Linked DNA regions of Homo sapiens: regions 1 and 3 are each linked to region 2. The links come from fine-mapping of genetic effects on gene expression. A gene starts in region 2. Each other region holds a variant in brackets. All regions are shown on one strand. Distances are from middle to middle.

Region 1 (4,241 bases), 71 kb before region 2:
CTAAGATACAGCATTTTCTGTGACCCGAATGGTCAGTCAGGATGTATGGTTGAAAAGAAACAGCCACTGAAATATTCATCCAATATATTACCCCCTTACAAACAAGCATGTTCTGTTTCTCTGAAAGTACTCTCCTATCCCTGCTCTGTTGTCTATTCCTGACTCTTAAGATCCACACCTAGAGGACTAAAGATAGAACATACAGGATTGAAGGGGGCTCATGGTCCCACATTACAATCCTCAAAAAATGACCTTAAAGACAGACTAGCAGGTGAAAGGGTAGAGACAACATAGGTGACATCACCAAGAGTCACACATACCAAATATCAAAAAACAATTTTCTGTTTATCTCTCTCCCTTCTCCCTTTTCCCTACTCAGATCCAGATCTGCTACTGCATACATATCACCAAGTCATACCCATTCTACTTCCAAACGTTTCTCAACGTTATCTCTATCCCATCTGGCCATATCTAGATCATCTCATTTAATGGTCATTCATGCATTCACCTAGCCAACATTTTTGAGTGCCTAAAAAAGTACTAGATTGTTTGAAATGCTCAGAATTCCATGCATATTCAATTGCCCAGACCTTTGCTGTTCCCCTTTGAGTAGACTCCCCTTCTAACCTGACAAACTCCTATTTGCTCCTCGAGGCCCTGCCTTTTTCTATGATCCCATAGCAAGTTGTCCATGCTTCCATTACAGCTAATATCTATTTCCTCGATGCCTAACAAGTGCCTACTATTCAGCAGGTGCTAAGTCAAGGGTAGATGAAGAGATGTCTTTTCTTTTGCCTTGGAATTGGTTATGTTTCAGGAACCAGTCTAACCACCCGATCTGACAGTTATAATCAGACCATTACTTTATTTTCACTCAGTATTTGAACTTCTCTCAAGGCCCAGTTCACATGCAATGCACCACCACCACAACAAAAATGTGCTCAGACACTCCAGAACAAAACAAAGACCATCCTTCTGAGTCACAGCCATACACAAAGAGCATAGACTGGACTCCTTACAGGATTAGAGAAGACTAGAACTATATCTTGAATGTTCCTTCCTCCCCTTTCCATTCATTCAACAACATTTATTGAGCACTTAATATGTGGCAAGTACTGTTATAAGAACTTAAACATTTATAATTGAATATTTATCTAAACCATGAAATCCTAAACAAATAGATGGACTTCCAGTGGAGAAATGCATCTGTGGAACCCCAGAAACAGTTAAAAAAAAAATCCAGTGAGTAAATACGTTTTCCTGAGAGAGAAAATGGCTTTCAGCAGATTCTTAAAAAGTCCCTGATTCAAAAAAAAAATGTTGTTCTATATTGCCCTACACCCTGCTTAGAATAATAAATATTTATACCTGAACAAGTTCCAACATTTTGTTATTTGCTATATAAAAAGAATCCTCTCTCATTAAAAGTAATGGCAAAGCTTTTGGACTCCTGGCAAGATGGTCAAATAGGAACAGTTCCGGTCTGCAGCTCCCAGTGAGACCAATGCAGAAGGCAGGTGATATCCGCATTTCCAACAGAGGTACCCGGTTCATCTGATTGGGACTGGTTAGACAGTGGGTGCAGCCCATGTAGGGCAAGCAGAAGCAGGGTAGGGCGTTGCCTCACCCGGGAAGTGCAAGGAGCTGGGGGAGCCCCCCTCCCTCAGCCAAAGGGAAGCCATGAGGGACTGTCCTATCTGTCCCAGATACTATGCTTCCCCCATGGTTTTTACAACCCACAGACCAGGGGATTCCCTCACTTGCCTACACCACCAGGGCCCTGGGTTTCAAGCACAAAACTAGGCAGCTGTTTGGGCAGACACTGAGCTAGCTGCAGTTTTTTTTTTTCATACCCCAGTGGCACCTGCAACCCCAGCGAGACAGAACCGTTCACTCCCTTGGAAAGGGAGCTGAAGCCAGGGAGCCAAGTGGTCTCACTCAGTGGGTCCCAGTCCCACAGATCCCAGAAAACTGAGAACCACTGGCTTGAAATTCTCACTGCCAGCAAAGCAGTCTGAAGTCGACCTGGGATGCTTGAGCTTGGTAGGGGGAGGGGCATCCACCATTACTGAGGCTTGAGTAGGTGGTTTTCCACTCACAGTGTTAAGCAAGCTGCCGGGAAGTTCGGCAAAACTCACCGCAGGGCAGCGAAGCGGCTGTGGCCAGGCTGCCTCTCTAGATTCCTCTTCACTGGGCAGGGCATCTCTGAAAGAAAGGCAGCAGCTCCAGTCACGGGCTTATAGATAAAACTCCCATCTCCCTGGGACAGAGCAGCTGGGGGAAGGAGCAGCTGTTGGCACTAC[G/A]GCAGACTTAAATATTCCTGCCTGCTGGCTCTGAAGAGAGCAGAGAATCTCACAGCAAAGCTCTGCTAAGGGACAGACTGCCTCCTTAAGTGGGTCCCTGACACCCGTGCCTCCTTACTAGGAGATATCTCCTAGCAGGGGTTGACAGGCACCTCATACAGAAGAGCTCTGGCTGGCATCTGGTGGGTGCCCCTCTAGGACAAAGCTTCCAGGGAAGGAGCAGGCAGCAATCTTTGCTGCTCTGCAGCCTCCACTGGTGATACCCAGGCAAACAGGGTCTGGAGTGGGCCTCCAGCAAACTTCAGCAGACCTGCAGCAGAGGGGCCTGTTAGAAGAAAAACTAACAAACAGAAAGCAATAATATCAACATCAACAAAAAGGACACCCACTCAAAAACCCCATCCAAAGGCCATCAGCATCAAAGATCAAAGGTAGATAAATCCACAAAGATGAGGAAAAACTGGTCCAAAAATGCTGAAAATTCCAAAAACCAGAATGCCTTATCTCCTCCAAATGATCGCAACTCCTCTCCAGCAAGGGCACAAAACTGGATGGAGAATAAGTTTGACAAATTGACAGAAGTAGGCTTCAGAAGGCAGGTAATAACAAACTCCTCTGAGCTAAAGGAGCATATTCTAACCCAATCCAAGGAAGCTAAGAACCTTGATAAAAGGTTACAGGAACTGCTAACTAGAATAACCAGTTTAGAGAAGAACATAAATGACCTGATGGAGCTGAAAAACACAGCATGAGAACTTTGTGAAGCATACACGAGCATCAATAGCTGAATCAATCAAGCAGAAGAAAGGATATCAGAGATTGAAGATCAACTCAATGGCATAAAGGGTAAAGACAAGATTAGGGAAAAAAGAATGAAAAGGAACAAGAAAAGCCTCCAAGAAATATGGGACTATGTGAAAAAACCAAACCTACAATTGATTGGTGTATCTGAAAGTGATGAGGAGAATGGAACCAAGTCGGAAAATATACTTCAGGATATTGTCTAGGAGAACATCCCCAACCTAGCAAGACAGGCCAACATTCAAATTCAGGAAATACAAAGAACCTCACTAAGATACTCCTTGAGAAGAGCAACCCCAAGGCACATAATCATCAGATTCTCCAAGGTTGAAATGAAGGAAAAAATGTTAAGGGCAGCCAGAGAGAAAGGTAAGGTTACCTATAAAGGGAAGCCCATCAGACTAACAGTGGATCTCTCTGCAGAAACCCTACAAGCTGGAAGAGAGTGGGGGCCAATATTCAACATTCTTAAAGAAAAGAATTTTCAACCCAGAATTTCATATCTAGCCAAACTAAGCTTCATACACAAAGGAGAAATAAAATCCTTTACAGACAAGGAAATGCTGAAGGATTTTGTCACCACCAGGCCTGCCTTACAAGAGCTCCTGAAGGAAGCACTAAATATGGAAAAGAAAAAACAGTACCAGCCACTGCAAAAGCATTCCAAAATATAAAGACCAACAACACTATGAAGAAACTGCATCAACTAATGTGCAAAATAACCAGCTAGTATCATGATGACAAGATCAAATTCACACATAACAATATTAACCTTAAATGTAAATGGGCTAAATGCCCCAATTAAAAGACACAGAGTGGAAAATTGGATAAAGAATCAAGACCCACTGGTGTGCTGTATTCAGGAGACCCATCTCACATGCAAAGACACACATAGGCTCAAAATAAAAGGATGGAGGAATATTTACTAAGCAAATGGAAAACAAAAAACATCAGGATTTGCAATGCTAGTCTCTGATAAAACAGACTTTAAACCAACAAAGATCAAAAAAGACAAAGAAGGGCATTACATAATGGTAAAGGGATCAATGCAACAAGAAGAGCTAACTATCCTAAATATATATGCACCCAATACAGGGGCACCCAGATTCATAAAGCAAGTTCTTAGAGATCTATAAA
Region 2 (4,241 bases):
GTTTTGAGTTTGATCCTCTAAAACCATAAGAATCTTCCCATGAGAGATAGTTGAGAAAATGTTGGCCTTTATTAGTATGCACTATTAACACAGGTGTTCTGACTGCATTTTCCAACCCTCCCTCTATTTTATGCACCTCTCTACATGTGAGAACTTTTGACTAACTCTGAGTCCTGACCTGCCAGAGTGACTTTGTCAGTCTCTCTTTAAAAATGGGCAGGTGAATGAGTTCAGCCTAGAAGCAGCAGCTCGGTAAGGGAAATGAAAATATCAGAAGTTATCTAATCACAGCCATAGCCATGCTGAGCTTCATCTTATCTTTTGGTTAATAAAAAGAAATGGGACCTTCCGAAACTTGAAGGGCATCAAATTAAGTTTTTGCTTGCCTCTGGCTTTTTGGGGGATATGCTATGTGGTTTAACCAGCATATACTAACTACAAAAATTGACATGGATTCAAAACACCTGTGTCATAGGACGGTGGGTGTTTGTTTTTTTGTTTTGTTATAAAGCAGAAAATAAAACACAAAGGCCTTTGAGAACAGGGATTGTTAAGGGAATAGAAGAGTATGGAGAAAAGAACACTTTATTTGAAGTTAAGGTAATTGTGTACGCCTGTGTATGTGTGCGCGCGGGGGCGCGCGAATGAGCAGGATTTAGTTTCATTTAAAGATAACATATTAAAGTATCTTGGACAGCTCAAAAGTGCTGTTCAGGAAACAAAACCAAGTGAGCCAAGAAAAACCAGAACAGTGCTTTTAAAATCCCTGGCAAAGCAGCAAGAGGATGAAGAGTTGGTTTTGCATAGTTTTGAACACAGGGTGTAAAGGTGCTGAGGCATCTTTTCCCACAAGTCACTGAAATCCTGTGAGAGTGTGTGAGTGTGTGTGTGTGTCTGTGTGTGTGTGTGTGTGTGTGTAGAGGGAGAGGTTCTCAGATGTCTCTCTTGCAAAGCTTCCCAGAGCACTCTCGCTTCCCTAGCCCCCTCCCGCCTCACTCTGCTCACCTTTCCCCCCTCCACTTCCCAACCACCCACATCAAGCCCTTCATAGATTTGCGCCCCTTGGATCATCTCTGCCGCCTGTGACTTTCCCTGGAGCCTAGCAGGTTCTGGGGCTGAAAGGCAATCCGCCAAGGCGCCCTGGGGCGCCGTCAGATTTGGAACATAGAATGGGAAATAGGGCCTTAAAGCCCACCTACTCCAAGATGAAGGAGGAGCATTTTTCATCAGGGTTTAGCCTGCTCCTCACCGGATGGTAATCAGCACTCGCTTGACTTGGCGTGGACCACCTCCTAATTATCTCCATTGGATTCAGCCCTAACAGTTCTCGTGTGTCTGTGATACCACGCGGGGTCGTGATCTCCTTACTCAGCTGTGGCTTGGTTTCAGTGGTCCCTCCAGTCCCGTCCCCTGTCCCCGTCCCCCTTTCCTTCTGGCTACTTTATTCCATAGAGGAAGAAGCGCTGAAGGACTACGTTGAATCAAAGCACTTGCAAGCCTATTCATTAGTTTTTAACACTGAGAAGAGGCAACTAAAATATTATTAGAACCTCATTGTAAGAAGTGTGGGGGAGGAGGTTGAGAGGCTGAATCCAACCGCAGCCAGGTCAAGCCATTGGAAGGGACTACAATGTCCCACAGCTTTCTCACTGTCAGAGAGGAAGCTGCAACTTCAGCCAGAACTCCCTTCCCCTCCCCTTCCCCGATTTTGAAAACCGTACCCCTTCTTCCGCCTTCGGGACTTCCCTGACCTATCCCTCACCCGTGCCATGCTGTCCCCTCCCCTCCGCGGTCTTTCTCCCCAACTCCATTCGCCCCACCCCACCTGGGCGAGTTGGGTGGATGTCAGAAGGCGAGAGGTAGGGGATGGAAGTCCCTTCAGATTAAAGACGTTGCTTGCTGCTGCTTTTTAAAACAACAACAGCAATGACAAACGTGCAAAGGTGAGCGAGAACCAGTGCATCTCAAAAGTTGGTCTTGCTACGCAGCAGCTCCAACAGACTTTGCAATCACAGCGCCCCAGGAACACAGGAATGAAGAGTTGGCATTTACTTACCTGGGTGTGCCAATCTCGAAGAGTGGAGAGAGAATTCAGCCCGGGACGAGGTCTGTCCCGCCCCCAGGATGCAAAATCCGGCTTTGAAGTGGAGGTGGTTGGTGTGGTAGTTTTGTACTGATGTAAGGGGCGTCGCACCTCCTTCCCCTCTCGTCCTCCGAGGTCAGTTTAGCAACAGCGGCTGGGAAAGGTGCTGAGAGCAGAGTTCGGTCTCTCCGGAAACCCTGACTCCATTCTCGGTGATGGGGGTGGGGGAAGAGGGTGAAAATGTTGGAGATGTCAGGTCGGCTCTCAGTTAACTCGGAGAGTAAAGAGGAGGGTACTGAGAAAAGAGGGAGGGAGTGGAGTGGAGCGAGGGAGGAAGGAAAGGAGGGTGGCAGAAAGAGAAGGGGACGAGCGGGTGGCGGGGAGATGGCAGCTTCTCACAGAGAGATTTCCACCTTCTGACGAATCCCATGCACCCAGCAACCCGGCAAGAGACTGGTTCCGAAACCTCCGCGCGAGCGCCCCCTGGGGGTTGCTGACGGAGACGAGCATTGCCCCGGGAACCCGAGCTCAGGCCCCGCCCAGGCCTTGGCGGCGGCGCTCTCCGTGGTCCTGCCGCGCCCGCAGTCTGGGCTTTCTGCTCAGCTTTGTCGCTCAACTGAGCTCCTGGGGACACTTGATTTAGATCTCCAAGTGCTTGGTCTCCATCTCCACTCTAGGGTGGAGCGGTCGTATCGCGGCGCGGGTGTGGGGGGAATGGGAGTTACACTTTTTGGCACTCACCAAAGAAAACTTCTTAGATGGGTGCTTAACTGTCACCAAAAATGGTAAAGGTGTTGCTAATCTCTGGATCCTTCGTGTCTACAAAACTGTCTGGCGTATGGCAGGAGCCTGGAAATTATTTTTAGTAAGTAATGCATGAGTAAATTAATGGACAAAGAGTATTTTCTTCATCTCATGATGAGTTTCTGAATACATCTACCTCACAAATAAGATAAAGAAATACTTAGGGAGTACTTATGCTTAAAGATAGATATAAATATGCTGTCTTATGTAAGGGGTGACCACTTCCACATGTTTTAAAGCACTTTAGAGAGAAAGTATGGCCTTCCTATTTCAAACTTATTCAAATTCAGACAAATGAACTTATTCAAATACAGGGCATTGTTTCTGATTATGTCTGCTACCATAGACAAACTAGACAACTAAATTCTCTCTGCACATTGGTATTGTCAGACTCACAAATTGGACTTTGGAATTAATGAAGTAAAGTGAATGACGGTCTCTTTCTGACATTGGGATGGTATAGAGTGTGTTACATCTAACGTGGAGGGGAGATGGAAGGTCTTCCTTCTCACCCTATTAAGGGGCTATCTAACAAAGCCTCTCCAACCTGAAGGTTGGAGGAGATATTAGCCAAAATCTTTTCACTAACCATGAAGTTCTCAATTTCAAAGTCCAGAAAAGGAGAACCAATAGGGTAAGGAGGAAGACCCCCTCTTAATTGTTCTATAGAAGTAGACAGAAATATCTTTGATAAACAAAGGGACAACCTTCTGACAGAACACAAATAACATTTTTCTTCTTTCAGTCACCTCTAAAGCCTTTCTGAAATAGGATAACACTAAACATGGACCCTGGAAAGGACCTCAGGGAGCTTCTCTGTACACTGAAACTACCACAGAAATCCTTGGATTTGCTTTGATTGCAAAAACTTGGGTCACATGGCTATGCATAAGTCAATCGTTGTGACCTTTGGATATGGAATTACACTAATGGGCCAGGACTTCCACAATGTCTAGGAGCATGTGATGTCTTCTATAGCACTCCTGGAGCCAGGATGGAGCCCCACCTGATCTACACACATTGCGAGTGAGACACAGGGACAATTCTCCAAGGGATATTCAGGGTCCTCCTACCAGGAAAGGGGAGACGGATGCTAAGCAGGCAAAACCAGTGTATGACTACTAAATATGAAAATGTTAAGTCCAAAAACATTACTTCCAGGTTTTGTTAAGAGGTAGCCTCAGAGATAAACTCAAAATTTGAATTGGATTGAACTTGCAAAGATGAAGGAAGAAGAAGGAAAAGTCATTGTGCATTTCCTTGCATGTTAATTGTATCCTCTAAAATTTAATTTCTATGAAGGCAAGGGATATGTCTGTTTTGTCGTCTTGTTCATAATTATAACCCCAATGCC
Region 3 (4,241 bases), 230 kb before region 2:
GCACGGACAGACACTGTTTAATGGAAAGACCTATGTCACAATGCACTGAATTTCTCACAGCAAGGCTGTAAATGACATCAAAATACAGACATCTAAGCTGAGACCCTTAGCATCATCCTCAAAGCACAAAATGTTCACGGAGGGAAACCCTGGAATCTCCCCCTGAAAACCTGTTAATGTGGCTGAGAGCTCAAAACTGAATCATTGAAAACAGTATATTTTATGGACATAGAGAAAGATGCTGCTTTTCTCCTGACAATCTTCAAAGAGGGACCAGGTCATGATAAAGCAAAGCTGAAAGTCACTGCAGAGCAGGTCAGCAACCCACAGAGACAATCTTCCCTAAATTGGCACTTTAATGCCTTGGGTTTTAGCATTCTGGCCTCAGATGGAAAACCTGTATGGACTCAGGACTGGAATTAGAAAATTTTAAGGTTAGTTTGTTGGAGGATTTTCTAAGTTATCTATCCAATTCAGTTTCCAGGGAGGTAGTGAAAGGTTACAAAAATAAATAAAAAGACGAAGAAGAAATGCTTTGAAGCCAGAAATGTTTGAATTCAAATCCTGGCTCTACCATTAGCCAGGTGGATAACCTTGGAATTCGACAAATTACATAATGTCCTAGAGGGATGAATTTTCATTTGAGTATGGTTATGATTGCACCCACATCTGTGAGGATGACATGAGATGTTGCCAGTATCATATTTAGCACAGTGCCTGGCATATAGCAGAAAACAGGAAATGCTAACTCTCTTCCCTTTCTCTGTCCAGCTTTCTAATACAGTCAGTCCTACTCATTTAGTTTGTTATCTCTTTCTAGAGAACAAAAGCAAAAGGAAGTTTTGCTGCTAACTGTCTCTATCAAGTTTTTCTACATTGAAGACAAACTGTGTATGTGATTTGTTCTCCTCAAATGAGATATTCAGGTAAGAATACTCTGAAGGCATAGACATCTGGGACTCTCTCCTGAGTAAAGAATTTAAAATATGAGGACAACTCTATCTGTTCAAAAGATATTTTAAAATGTTGTTAGGCACCTACTTTGTGCCAGGCACTGTTCTAGCCACTGAAAACCCATACTTTAGACAACTCTCTGCCCTTGTGAAGCTCATACCCAAGCTGAGGAGAACATGCTGTGCTCAGAAATGTTTATTGCAGCACTATTTGTAAACATAAGGAACTAGTGACAATATTAGTATTTAACAACGGGGAAATGGTTAAGTAAATTACGTACCTCTAATTGCTGGAACATTAAGCAGTGATCAAAATGGTGGTCAGGAAGAGTGGAAAACCGTAAAGACTAATCTCTTACTAAATGAGAAATTAAAGTTCTTATTAAGGTTTGACTCCATCTCTGAGCATCTGAGTTTATAAAGTCTAGTTACAAGCACAATAAATCAATACATCTTAATTATTTTTCTCACCTTATCTCTTGTGTGCCTATAAATATCTAGAGTCAATTAGTCTCTCTCTCTCCCTCTCTAATACACACAAATCATTATTGATTAATCCATCCCATCAGAGTTAAAGGGGTTAGTTGAAATTCTCTTTTACCACTGAACATTTGTGATTCTCTGATTCAACTATCAGGTAGAAGTTCTGAAACTTTTCTCCTCCCTATTCATTCACACTGGTTTAATCATTACCAACCTGTATATCTCGGTGGAACTCAGTTTGTCTGCTATAAGCAGAACCCGTATGATTTCAGACACAAGAAATTGGGACACTACAGGGAAAATGTTAATGTCAAGCAGCTGGCAAGTATTAAAAAATACAAATTATAAATATCTATAGAATATGTGAACTACTCACAAACCTAGTTATATCTTCCCGAGGTATGACTCGAGCCTTGTGAATAAATGCCTAGAATCCAGCTGTTTTTACTTCATATCAGACTGCTTTATATAACCTGATCTGTAGGACTAGCACAATAATAAACCAAAACAAGGGCTAAATGATCACAAAAATGGTTTTCTTTTACCTTTTCCTGTGTTCTACATCCTTTACAATGTGACTTTCAATTCATCTGCTGAAAA[G/A]GTATCGTGTATTTCCCCATCCCTTGTATTGGGCTGGCCTTGTAACTTGCTTCAGCCAATGGGATGTGGTAGAAGTGGCAGCGTGCCTGTTCTAAACCAAGGCCAGAAGAGGCTTAAATGCTTCTGCTCTTTCTCTTGGAACTATTCCACTGCCATGTGACTAAGCTCAGGCTAACCTGATAGAGAACAAGTGACATGTGGCCCAGTCTTCCCATTTGCCCTTGTCATCAGCGAGGCCTTATCTGCAGTTGGGCACAGACACATGAGAAAGTCCATCTGAGACCAGAATAACTGCCCAACTAAGCACAGCATAAATTGCTGACTCACATAATAGTGAGTTAAAGAAATGGTGTTTTTAAGCCACTAGGTTTTGAATGGTTTATTATTTAAGGGAAATAGTCACAAGCAGACTAAATTCCAAAATGAGCACTATCCTGAGTACTCCCAGATTCATTTGCCTTGAGTCAAACCAACAGAATTCTTATTGCCCATTCTGTGATTTTTCTCTCCTCATTCCCATCCAATCAGCCCATGTATGAATCATACACTACCTGCTGCAAAACTGAAAGATGTGTTTTTCCCTGGGAAGGCCATCGCTTGCTCTCCTTGGTGCCCTGGAAAGATACATTATTTTGGATAGCTAGTGTAAAGTACAATTTTGCAGATGTATGAGATAGGGAGCTCTCGTGCTTCCCATGTTTGTGGCAAGATAAAGAGATGGATGGAAAAATTTAGTATCAGTGAAACCACAAGCCAGTGATTTCAACAATTTTGACACTTCGAATTCAGGGTTGTTTTTGGTCCAATGTGCTGTTCTAGTTATACCTGTCTACAAAACAACAAATTTAAAGGTATTAAACAAATTCGATCCTCATTTATTATTATCTCATACAGTCTGGGTATTGGGTAGGCTCAGCTAAATGATTCTCACTCAGAGTCTCTCATGAAGTTGCAACTAGACATTAACAGGGACTGGAGTCATCTTGAAGACTGCCTCCCTCACATGTCTGCTGGGTGATGCCGGCTGTCAGCCAGAACACCTATAAAAATGGTTTCTTCATGTAACCTGGGATTCCTCACAGCTGGGTGTGAGATGGTAGTGACTGGGTACCAAAAGCAAGTGTTCTAAGACAGATCTAGGGAGAAGGTGCAGCTCTTTCATTGCCTCACGAGTTATATAGTGACACTTCCACTGTGCCCTACTGGTTGAGGCAGTCACAAAGATATGCCCAAGTCCAGGAAAAAGAGAAATAGACTCTGCCTGTCATATCTATGAATGTGGAAAGGTCACATTTTAAGAGGAGCATGTGGAATAAAATGTATTATTGCAGCCTTCTTTGGGAAATAAAATCTTCCAGATGTACATATAAATAATCGGAAATCATGAAATTCCAGTCATTTTACTTTTATTAACATGCAGCTAGAACCATGCTAGTGAATAACTTAGATATTAGATACTGTGCAGCCATATTCAGGCAGGTCTTAAATATAACTGGATGCTTGAAACTTTATCTGAGTCTTCCTAAAAGTATCTGGGAAGTTAAGGAGAACGTTTTTGTTGGCTGGAAGCCATCCTTCCTCATACAACTAAATGATATTTAATTTAAAATATGAACTTTGCCTTAAATATTAATTAGAACATAAAATTAAAATATTGGCCAGGCGCGGTGGCTCATGCCTGTAATCCCAGCACTTTGGGAGCCCGAGGCGGGTAGATCATGAGGTCAGGAGATCGAGACCATCCTGGCTAACATGGTGAAACCCTGTCTCTACTAAAAATACAAAAAATTAGCCGGGCATAGTGGCGGGCGCCTGTAATCCCAGCTACTCTGGAGGCTGAGGCAGGAGAATGGCATGAACCCGGGAGGCGGTGCTTGCAGTGAGCCGAGATTGTGCCACTGCACTCCAGCCTGGGTGACAGAGTGAGACTCCGTCTCAAAAAAAAAAAAAAAAAAAAGAAATAGGAACAATTTTTATAGTTGTCAGCCTGGAGCAAGAAAACACAATAAACTTGGTCAGCAGATGTTAAGACACAAGTGTAGGGAAAAAGTGAAAATTTTATTTAAAAATATCTCTTAGGCACTTTTAGAAGCCACAAACTACAACAAAGCTATTCCCTCATTTTCTTGCTCTGGTTTCTAACATGTGGTCACTCCATGTCCCTTGCCTCTGGAGAACGAGGTGGTAGCATGAAAGGAAGAATGA

Evidence for each region. PIP is the estimated chance that this variant, and not a neighbour inherited with it, causes the effect. A credible set is the group of variants that fine-mapping cannot tell apart.
Region 1: its variant is the best candidate, but not a certain one, in a credible set for the expression of CPNE4 in aorta (GTEx, PIP 0.57).
Region 3: its variant is the best candidate, but not a certain one, in a credible set for the expression of CPNE4 in left ventricle (GTEx, PIP 0.86).

Annotation. Positions count from the first base shown.
Region 1 is chr3:131,961,506-131,965,746 of GRCh38, forward strand. All of the region lies in intron 1 of CPNE4 (copine 4), which reads right to left. Among named protein-coding and RNA genes, the nearest start is that of MIR5704, 22 kb to the right of the region's middle. The variant G/A (reference allele first, on the strand shown) is at 2,304.
Region 2 is chr3:132,032,511-132,036,751 of GRCh38, forward strand. It overlaps CPNE4 (copine 4), which reads right to left and starts at 2,504. Exons shown (of 16, transcript NM_130808.3): 1 at 2,057-2,504. RefSeq lists an enhancer at 2,084-2,253 and a silencer at 2,629-2,728.
Region 3 is chr3:131,802,577-131,806,817 of GRCh38, forward strand. All of the region lies in intron 2 of CPNE4 (copine 4), which reads right to left. It overlaps LOC105374113 (a long non-coding RNA gene), which reads left to right and starts at 234. Exons shown (of 7, transcript XR_007096089.1): 1 at 234-315; 2 at 821-926. The variant G/A (reference allele first, on the strand shown) is at 2,037.